Regions from separate parts of the Homo sapiens genome. Here region 1 is linked to region 2. Evidence: fine-mapped expression QTL. A gene starts in region 2. The other region holds a variant in brackets. All regions are shown on one strand. Distances are between the middles of the regions.

Region 1 (5,359 bases), 27 kb after region 2:
AGAACTCCTTAGCGTCTTCTTTCCGGAAGGAAGCTACAGGTGTGCTGGGAAACCTAGCTGTTGGAGAGTGAGGTCATGCTATGCAGGACTGGCTGGCAAGGCAGGCCCTGGCAAAGCCAGGAAGCGCCCTGAGGAAGCCACGGGCCAAGGTCCTCTGTGACTGTTCCTGCACCCCAGATCTCCCCGGGGTCTGGGTCGGCCTCCTCCTGTCACATGACAGACTGATAGAATCTCCAAATGTCTTTTTCCAAAAAGGGCACAGACTATAAGCCCACAAATTGCTCAGAGAATTGCAGCATCTCTTCAACTCCTTTGATGTAAACGTCTACTTAAAGAAAGAAAAGGAAAAAAAGAAAGAACCTACACCTCAATACTGCTCTGCATCACTTCTGGGGAGAAGAAAGTTAGATTCCTGGCAGATGTCACCAGCCGAAGCCTTCTATGAACAAACCGGGGGAATTTCACAATGCTGGAAGCAAACAAATCTCTAAGCTCAGCAAACCAACGGGCTCCAGCCAGGTGCCCACAGCCAGCAGCTGGCAGTGCAGTGAGGGTGGAGGAACGCTGCATGGTACCCTCTGACCCCTCCACGGCTTCCAAGTCTGTACAGTCAAAAACGTCTCCCATTCACTGCGGAGATGAGCGCCAAAGGCGGGGGGCGGCGGCGAGGAGGAGGACAACTTCCTAACACTTTTCTCCCTTCCCGCCAAGAAGCGCGAGGGGGCCTTCCCCTCCGACGGGCAGGTCTCCTTCCGAGGCTAGTGTCACCTCCACTCCACAGAGGAAAACGTCAGTCTCGGAAGGAGTTTGCTCAGGGTCATCCAATGGGGGCCCAGAAACACAGCTGGGCTGAGAATGCCCAGAGTTTGACGCCCTGCTTCCAGGACGGATGGCCTCCGCAGAGTCCCCCTTGCCTTGTTTCCTCGAATGGAGGACCCTGGAAAATAAACTCCTGAAGACGAGCAGGTCACCGAGTTCTCCATCTGATCAGGACCCTTCCTGAGGCCCGGCAGGAACCCCCGGGACACGGGGGAAGTCCCCAGGCTGTCCCCACAGGGCTTGCCCCCTCCTGCAACCCGCTCGGCCGCCTCCGGCCTCCAAGCCCCAACGCCCCGCCGTCAGCCGCACGGCCGGGACCCCGCCCTGGGTGGCCCCACCAGGCCTCTCTCGGAAGCCGGCGCCGCCGGGCCCACGGCCGGACCTCAGTGAGGCAAAGTCCCCATCCGGTCGCCGGGAGCCCCGCTGCCCCCGGGCCGCGCCCCCGGCGCCCCGCACCTGGCGCAGCTCCTCGCGGCACACGGCGCAGTAGCGCTGCTCGCAGAGCACCCGCATCTTGGTAGAGCAGCGGTAGCACACCGGGTGGTCGCAGCGGCCCCAGCGCCGTGGCCTCCAGGTCTCCGCAGCACAGCACGCAGCTCCCGCCTCCCCGCTCAGGAGCTGCCGCCGCCTCCGCCTCCATGTCCGCGCGCCGCCCCTCGGCGCCCCCCGGCCGCCGCCATGGTCCGGGATCCGGCCCCCCTCTCGGCCGGTCGTGGCGCCGAGCGGCCTGGCTCCCGGCGGGCCCGCCCCTTCCGGGCAAACGTCACCGCCCCACCCAGCAACGGGCCCGCCCGGCGCAAGTGCGCGTCGCGACTTCCGCCTCAGCGCGGCGCCGGCTAGAGCGGTGGCCCTGATAGAGGCCGCTCTACCATGAGCCGACCGCTCGAAGGTCCGCGCGGCCACGCGGCCAGCCCCGGGCTCCTCTGGGCCACGCGTGTCACGTCAACACTCGCCGGGCTCCACGAACTGGCGTTGTCAGATGAAACACGGCACAACTGGTTTGCATCTCAGATGAACAAGGGGTCATGTCTTAGTGTAAGTATAGCCCAAATATTGATGGGCTAGGCTCATACTAAAATGCTGCTCCTTATCTGAAATTGACATTTAAGTGGACCTGCCGTATTTGTATTTGCTAAATCTGGCCACCTTATTAGGAAACCGGTCTCTGGTATTTGGAACACACACAAGCGTGGTCCCGCCTCCACTTCCCTAATGCCCTGTTTAAATCCCTACATGAAAGACAACGTGAAAGGCAGCACGTGGTGACGTCCATCTCGCAGCCCAGGGCAGTCTCGCCAGGCCTGCCCAGAAGGGGCCTCTGGAAGGCACGAACGGAACCTGTCCTCTTTACGCTGGGCCCAGCACAGGACGTGTTTGGATGGATGCTGCAGTAACAGGGCCTCCTCCCTACCCTTGAGGGCCAGGCACACTCAGGACCTCCCTCCCTCTGCCATCCAGAAGGCAGGTCCAGATCTAAACCCTACTGGAAAAGAGGCAGTAAATTGTATCAATGAGCCTGAACTTTACTTACTTTATTTGAGACCGGGTCTTGCTCTTGCTGTAACACAGTGGTACGATCACAGCACACTGAGGCCTCAACCTCCTGGGCTCAAGTGATCCATGCCCAGTGAACTTGGACTTTAGAAACAGACACAAATGGGCTTGAAACCCCAATTTTGCCACTTGAAAAAAGCTGTCAGGCACAGTGGCTCAAGCCTGTAATCCCAGCAGTTTGGGAGGCTGGGTGGCCCGGATTGCTGGAGCCTGGGAATTTGAGACCAGCCTGGCCTACACAGTCAGGCTCCATCTCCACAAAAAAAATTTTTAGGCCGGGCGTGGTGGCTCACGCCTGTAATCCCAGCACTTTGGGAGGTTGGGATCACCTGAGGTCAGGAATTGGAGACAAGCCTGACCAAAATGGTGAAACCCCATCTCTACTAAAAATACAAAAATTAGCCGGGCGTGGTGACATGTGCCTGTAGTCCCAGCTACTCGGCAGCCTGAGGCAGTAGAATCTCTTGAAACCGTGAGGCAGAGGTTGCAGTGAGCCGAGATCACGACAATCACGCCACTGCACTCCAGCCTTGGCAACAGAGCGAGACTCCATCTCAAAAAAAAAAAAAAAAACACACACGACTAGAGTGCAGTGGCGTGATCTCGGCTCACTGCAAGCTCCGCCTCCCGGGTTCACGCCATTCTCCTGCCTCAGCCTCCTGAGTAGCTGGGACTACAGGC[A/G]CCCGCCACCACGCCCTGCTAATTTTTTTTTTTTATTTTTAGTAGAGACAGGATTTCACCATGTTCGCCAGGATGGTCTCGATCTCCTGACCTCTTGATCCACCTGCCTTGGCCTCCCAAAGTGCTGGGATTACAGGCATGAGCCACTGTGCCTGGCCAAAACACACAAAAATTAACGGGGCGTGGTGACATGCGCCTGTAGTCACAGCTTCTCGGGAGGCTGAGGCACGAGAAACGCTTGATCCCAGGAGGCAGAGGTTTCAATGAGCAGAGATTGCGCCCCTGCACTCCAACCTGGGCCACAGAGTGAGACTCCATCTCAAAAAAAAAAAAAGAAAACTGGGAAAAGTTATTGTAAGGATGTAAGAAGTTCAACATCTTGGCTGGGCGCGGTGGCTCACACCTGTAATCCCAGCTTGAAATTGGCACTTTGTGAGGCTGAGGCAGGTGGATCACGAGGTCAGGAGATCAAGACCATCATGACTAACGCGGTGAAACCCCATGTCTACTAAAAATACAAAAAGAAATTAGCCTGGTGTGGTGGCGGGCGCCTGTAGTCCCACCTACTCCGGAGGCTGAGGTAGGAGAATGGTGTGAACCCGGGAGGTGGAGCTTGCAGTGAGCCAAGATTGCGCCACTGCATTCCAGCATGGGCAACAGAGTGAGACTCCATCTCAAAAAAAAAAAAAAAAAAAAAGGCCACAAACTTGGCTTAAAACACACAAATGTATTATCTTTAGTTCTGGAGTCCAGACTCTAACGTGGGTCACACTGAGCTAAAATCAGGGTGTCAGTATCACTGCATTCCTATTTGGAGGCTCCAGGGGAGAATCTGCTTCCTTGCCTTTTCCAGCTGTTAGAGGCTGCCCGAACTCCTTGGCTCATGGCTGCTTTCTGTCTTTCAGAGTTGACTCTGGGGGAGGCCAGTGGTCCAATCTTTTTTTTTTCTTTGAGATGGAGTCTCTGTCGCCCAGGCTGAAGTGCAGTGGCACAGTCTTGGCTCACTGCAACCTCCACTTCCCAGGTTCAAGCAATTCTCCTGCCTCAGCCTCCCGAGTAGCTGGGACTACAGGCACCCGCCACAACACCCGGCTAATTTCTTTTTGTATTTTTAGTAGAGACAGGGTTTCACCGTGTTAGCCAGGATGGTCTCCATCTCCTGCCCTCATGATCCACCCGCCTCGGCCTCCCAAAGTGCTGGGATTACAGGCGTGAGCCACCCCGCCCAGCTTTTTTTTTTTTAGGTGGAGTTTCGCTCTTGTTGTCCAGGCTGGAGTGCAATGGCACAATCTCGGCTCACTGCAAACTCCGCCTCCCGGTTCGAGCAATTCTCCTGCCTCAGCCTCCTCAGTAGCTGGGATTACAGGCATGCGCCACCACGCCCGGCTAATTTTGTATTTTTAGTGGAGACGGGGTTTCTCCATGTTGGTCAGGCTGGTCTTGAACTTCTGACCTCAGGTGATCCGCCTGCATTGGCCTCCCAAAGTGCTGGGATTACAGGCGTGAGCCACCACGCCCAGCCGCTAATCTCCTATTAAAGCCAGCTGGCCTGATGTGGTGGCTCAGGCCTGTAATCTCAGCACTTTGGGAGGCTGAGGCAGGCAGATCACTGGAGGTCAAGAGTTCGAGGCCAGCCTGGCCAACATGGTGAAACCCCATCTCTACTAAAAATACAAAAATTAGCCGGGCATGGTGGTGGGCGCCTATAATTCCAGCTACTTGGGAACCTAAGGCAGGAGAATCGCTTTGAACCCGGGAGGCAGAGGTTGTAGTGAGCGGAGATCATGCCACTGTACTCCAGCCTGGGTGACAGAGCAAGACTCTGTTTCAAATAAAATAAAATAAAGCCAGCTAATTAGCAACCTTAATTTTATATTCCCTGGTGTGGTGGTGCGCACGTGTAGTCTCAGCTACTCGGGAGGCCGAGGCAGGAGGATTGTGTCAGTCCAGGAGTTCTGAGGATATAGTGGGCTGTGTCAGTCAGGTGTCTGCACTAAGTTTGGCATCGACTTGGTGACCTCCTGGGAGCAGGGGACCACCAGGTTGCCTCAGGAGGGGTGAACTGGGCCAGTTTGGAAAGAGAGCAGGTCAAAACTCCTGTGATCAGTAGTGGGATCACGCCTGTGAATAGCCACTAGACATCAGCCTGGGCAACATAGTGAGACCCTGCCTCTAATCAACCATTTTATCTACAGCCTAATTCCCTCCTACTATGTGGCATAAATATTCACAGGTTGCAGGGATTGGGGGCGAACATCTTTGGGGGGCTACTGTTCTGCGTACACACATGGGTGAAGGCCAGGGA
Region 2 (5,359 bases):
TTGCCCTGCCAGGGTGCGCCCAACAACTTTGAACTGGCCTGGGGATTTCTGTGCAGAACCAAGGACTCAGTGCTTACAGCTTTAAGTGCTTTGTCTGACTTAATCCTAATGCTGGAGGAAAGGTCTCTTAATGTCCCCAACTCATAGAGGAGGAAATGTGTGTTAAATGCGTAATTATTGTGAGCTGTTCTATACATGCTGGGGGAGGGGCAGACCTCACAGGCTCACCCCAGGGGTTCCCCTGCAGTGAGGAGACTTGGGGTAGGAGAAAGAGGGCCCATCTGTGCAGTCACTGGCATTTGGTGGGTGGGGGTGGTGGTCAGGGAAGTGGTCACTAGGGCTGTTTTGAGAACCACCTCTCAATTCACGATTTGCCATGACTTACTGCAAACATGGCCTGGGCAGAGGCTCGCCCAGGTGCCCCACCTCTCTGGCTGCTTCCTTATAGTTCGGGCTTCGGAAGCCACATTCAACCCTGGCACACAGTGGTTTTTCCTCGTGCTGGGGCCACCAGTTCTGTGTTGGGATGCACCTACTCCAGCCCCTTCAGGGAGCAGTCAGCCTCTAAGGCATCCCTCCAGGAAGCTGCCCTGGCTGCAACAAAGGGCCTTTGTGTGTCTGTCCCACCAGCACTCTCTCTCATGCCCTCAAGCTGTCCCTGGTCTTGGCATGGGCAATGAACACCTGCTCACATAGGGCTGATTTGCAGGGTTCCCCCAGCCAGCTGTCACCTTCTCCCTGTCTCAGCTGAGGGCCCAGCTGACCTGGTGGGGTCCAGCGTGTGAACCCAGGGGAGACCTTGCTCCCCTGGAAGACAGGAGAAGCTGGGGAGGATTTATTCACAAGCAGAGGCCTAGAGGGATTCTGAGGCCACCTGCCTACCCCAGCTGACAGCTCCTGCCCCACACCCCATCAGCCCTGCATGGTTTCCACTTTTTCCTCCCCTACCCTCTTTTCTTGCCTGAATAGTACACCCCACCCTCCATCTGTATGCTCCTCACTTGCCCCTACAAAATCCACTCCAAGGACAGACACAGTGCCTCACCTGTAATCCAAGTACTTTGGGAGGCCGAGGCAGGGGGATTGCTTGAGCTCAGGAGTTCGAGACCAGTCTGGGCAACATGTTGAGACCTCCATCTGTGCCCCCCAAAAATACAAAAATTAGCTGGGCGTGGTGGCGTGTGCCTGTAGTCTACTTGGGAGGCTGAGGTGGGAGATCACTTGAGCCTAAGCAGTCGCGGCTGCAGTGAACAAGATCGCGCCACTGCACTCCACCCTGGGTAACGGAACAAGACCCTGTCTCAAAAAAAAAAAAGAAATCCACTCCCCATATGATAGCCAGCGGAATCTGCAGCAAACTGAAATGGGATCAGATTGGGTAACCTTGCCCAAAACTGTCTAGCATCTTCCCTCCTACCGTTATAATAAATTCCCAATCCCCGAAGCTGCCGACCAAGTCTTTGGTGGGCCCCTGTCCGTCCCTGGATCTCCCCTCCCACCTTACAACCCTCCCTAGCGTCCCACTGGCGTTTTTGTTCCTGCAAAATGCCAAGACCCTGCCACCTTGGGCTTGGTCTCGAAGGCGCTCCTCAGCTGATTCCTCATCCTTCAGAAAGGGTCACCTCCTCAAGGAGGCCTTCCAGATTTACTACACCCTTGCATGGACCCACCAGTTTGTACGTGAACATTTATGAGTGTGAGTCCTTGTTTTTTTTTCCTGTCTTGACCACTGGATTATGAACAGAGAAGGTCAGGGAACAGAATTGTGTTCCCTGCTCTGCCCAGCACTTGGAACAGCGCTTGGAACAGAGCGGTCACTGCGCAAATAATAGCGGAATGGATAAATGAACGCAAGGAGGCACAGGAATCCCAGAGGCCGCTCCAACCGGGAGCCCGACCCCTCATCCCAGGCTCTAGGATCCGCGACAGCCGGCGAGGGGCGCCAGGGAGCCCAAGGCACGCGCCAACCCTCTGCGGCCGCGCCGCGCCCTGCGTTGCCAGACGCCCGTTGCCATGGCGCCAGGGAGGGGACAAGAGCCCAGGACCCTAGCGCGCGCCGCAATCTGTGCGGTCACGCCCGGCCCGCGTTGAGAGAGCGCTTGGCAGCCAGCGGGTGGACGCGCCCCTCAGCGGAGGGCACAAAGCCTGGCCGCAGGCACGCAGGACACTCAGAACGGAGCGATGGGGACGTCGCGGGCCGCAACACGGACTTTGCCTGGGTGTCAGCTCGGGTCCACAGCGCGGCCGAGGCGCACCTTGCGCCACACACTGCTCTTTTACTGGAGAAAGCGGGACGGCCGCCACGGACGGCGCAACCCCTGCGTGCGCCGCGGATCGACGCCTGAGGGCGCCAGCAGGGTCCGACCCTCCTGCTCCGTCCCCGCCCCTGTCCTCGGGCCCGGCCAGCGCCGCGGCCTCTGGCTCCGCCTCCACACGGGCCCGCAAGCAGGCACCGCCCCCGACTCTGCCCCCAGCCCCGGCTCGGGCCCGGCCCCCGCGAGCACGGCGCGCGCCTCCGGCTCCTGTGGCCGCGCGCTGGCCTGGAGGCTGACCTGGAGGCTCATCTGGAGGCCGAGCTGACCCGGCAGGCCTTGCGCGGGCAACATGGCGGCGCCCGGCGAGCGGGGCCGCTTCCACGGCGGGAACCTCTTCTTCCTGCCGGGGGGCGCGCGCTCCGAGATGATGGACGACCTGGCGACCGACGCGCGGGGCCGGGGCGCGGGGCGGAGAGACGCGGCCGCCTCGGCCTCGACGCCAGCCCAGGCGCCGACCTCCGATTCTCCTGTCGCCGAGGACGCCTCCCGGAGGCGGCCGTGCCGGGCCTGCGTCGACTTCAAGACGTGGATGCGGACGCAGCAGAAGGTGCAGTTCCCTGCCCGATTTCTCCCAGCCCCGCGCAGCCCCTGTCCCCGCCCCCGCCCAGGTACCCCGGCAGAGCTTCCCAGGGTTGCCTGTCCCTGAACCTTGCCCCCCGGGTAGGCCCGGCCTTACAGCCTTCATCCGCGCGTGGGTTGGATCGTCTGCAGGACTTTGGCCGGAGTCCAGTGGGCCACCGGCTGGGCCGTACAGTGGGGAGCTTTGGGCGCCTTTGTTCGGAGAATGAACTCACTCTCGGTCGGCCTGCTTCCGCAGCGGGACACCAAGTTTAGGGAGGACTGCCCGCCGGATCGCGAGGAACTGGGCCGCCACAGCTGGGCTGTCCTCCACACCCTGGCCGCCTACTACCCCGACCTGCCCACCCCAGAACAGCAGCAAGACATGGCCCAGTTCATACATTTATTTTCTAAGTTTTACCCCTGTGAGGAGTGTGCTGAAGACCTAAGAAAAAGGTAAGATGTGTTTGCACGCAGCAGAGCTTTGCACTGGAGCCTGGGCCTGGGGCTCCTGGCTGACGTTATAGCGGGGAACGTAGAGAAACGGATGCAGAGGTGGCAGAAGTTTGCTGAGGAGCAGGGACCTCCAACAGGTGAGGACTGGGGCTATCTGAGCCTCCTCCTCTCGTCTCAGAAGCCAAGCTGTCGGGATCTGCTGCTGGGTACTGCTCCTGCCACAGCCACAGGGCTTCCAGGAAGGGATTCCCTGCCTTGTCTGGCACTGAAGGCGGTTTCCCGCAAGTTAGGGAAGACTCCACTTTGCCTGACTTCTAGAGTAGGACTTCTGGTTTTAAAATCTTGGAAATCCACTGCTTTTGCTCCCAAGAGCCATCTCTTCCTCACTGAGGGATCCAAGAGCCAGCACTGGCCCTTGCAGGTGTTTCTAGGCCAGATGTATAGGGTAGAGCCGCCATTGTTGCTATAAGGCTGGTCAGTTAGAATGAAGTCTCTTGCTGAACTGACGCACCAGGGCCTGCCCTCAGATGCTAAGAAACAAGTCCAGTTTTCAGTTACAAGGCTGTGCCCAGCCCCACCCAGGCCACACTCTGCCTGAGGCCAGGGACACTGGATGCCGCTTCCTGGGTGTTAGGAGCTTATAAAATTGCCAGGTCTGTGCTGTAATGTGTTGCCTTGAGGCCTCGTTGGAGTTTGCCAAGCTGTCCAGGTGGGTGTTTGCGCAGCCCTGGGAGTTCATCACACCCGGGGAGCTGCAGGGTCAGCCCTGTTCTGGGAGTGCCTGTACCTTGGAGCATAAGGGCACTCCCAGGTGTAGTTCACAGCAGTGCCCCAGCTCTCCTTCCTTGACAGCAGACAGGGAACTGGCAGGGGCAGTGGAGCCGCTGCGTCCTCTCATTCTTTACCTGCTCTCCCTACACAGGCTGTGCAGGAACCACCCAGACACCCGCACCCGGGCATGCTTCACACAGTGGCTGTGCCACCTGCACAATGAAGTGAACCGCAAGCTGGGCAAGCCTGACTTCGACTGCTCAAAAGTGGATGAGCGCTGGCGCGACGGCTGGAAGGATGGCTCCTGTGACTAGAGGGTGGTCAGCCAGAGCTCATGGGACAGCTAGCCAGGCATGGTTGGATAGGGGCAGGGCACTCATTAAAGTGCATCACAGCCAGAGCCTGTTGTGTCTCAGTTGGGTGGTCCCCAGGACACTGCCTGTGGGGACCTGCCCTGCCCCTCTTAGGTTTGGAGCAGAAGTGGAGGTGCCCACAGCAGGTACCCACTGGCCCCCTCCTCAGTGGAGACCCCAAGGAGCTGCAGCTGAACTGCAGGGGAGGGAAGGAGGAGCAGCCTGGGCTGCCCCTTGACATTCAGGATGTAGCTTCCTGCCCACCGCATACCCTGGCGCCTCACTCCTCACACGGGAAGACAGCGGGCCTGGCTGGGCATCCCTGTGCCTGTCCCTGGCGGCCAGGCCATTGCCTTCCCACTATGCAGCCAGGGATGCCCCTGCCCCCCATGGCTCTGTGCTGCTCACTTTAGGGGGCTCAATTCTCCACTCTGCTCAGTCCCTACAGGGAAAGCTCAGGTCGGGTCTTTCTGAGGGTCCACCAGCCATCCTACCCTCTCCCTGCCTGGCACATGCCTGCCAGCGTTGTGTCATGCCTGTCCACAGGGGATTCGTGGGGCTCACTTCATCAGAGTTTGAAGCCCAAATGAAACGCTGAAGTGACTGAGAACCTGGCTTCAGTATATTTTCTGCTGGGGCTTAATAAAGCAGTAGACAGGGCTTGTTCCATCCCTCTGTGCTCAGCTGCATTTCCTGCTGGGGTCCTGGTTCCTCAGGAGAGAGAGACCACAGGGTGAGAGTGAGCCAGGAACAGCAAGGACGTTGATTGGTTGGGGCAGGGGGGCCAGAGTAGCTGATGTAGGAGTACTGGGAGGCCAGACGGCACGAGGTCTCCAAGGCCCCAGCAAAGCCATGGCTTCTACCCCTAGTTCCCCTGACAGGAAGTTCTTGGCGGGTTTGGAGCCA

Evidence for each region. PIP is the estimated chance that this variant, and not a neighbour inherited with it, causes the effect.
Region 1: its variant is the best candidate, but not a certain one, in a credible set for the expression of GFER in esophagus mucosa (GTEx, PIP 0.50).

Annotation. Positions count from the first base shown.
Region 1 is chr16:2,008,249-2,013,607 of GRCh38, forward strand. It overlaps ZNF598 (zinc finger protein 598, E3 ubiquitin ligase), which reads right to left and starts at 1,573. Exons shown (of 14, transcript NM_178167.5): 1 at 1,490-1,573; 2 at 1,377-1,488; 3 at 1,276-1,375. The coding sequence starts at 1,499. It overlaps LOC124903626 (a long non-coding RNA gene), which reads left to right and starts at 1,637. Exons shown (of 2, transcript XR_007064941.1): 1 at 1,637-1,854; 2 at 2,060-2,340. It also overlaps the pseudogene RN7SL219P. RefSeq lists silencers at 872-941, 952-1,381, 1,472-1,691, 3,782-3,977 and enhancers at 1,299-2,247, 1,772-1,931. The variant A/G (reference allele first, on the strand shown) is at 3,055.
Region 2 is chr16:1,981,615-1,986,973 of GRCh38, forward strand. It overlaps GFER (growth factor, augmenter of liver regeneration), which reads left to right and starts at 2,579. Exons shown (of 3, transcript NM_005262.3): 1 at 2,579-2,862; 2 at 3,133-3,329; 3 at 4,252-5,359. The coding sequence starts at 2,605. The coding sequence ends at 4,414. TBL3 (transducin beta like 3) reads left to right here. Exons shown (of 22, transcript NM_006453.3): 22 at 1-1,315. RefSeq lists silencers at 1,118-1,310, 2,331-2,870.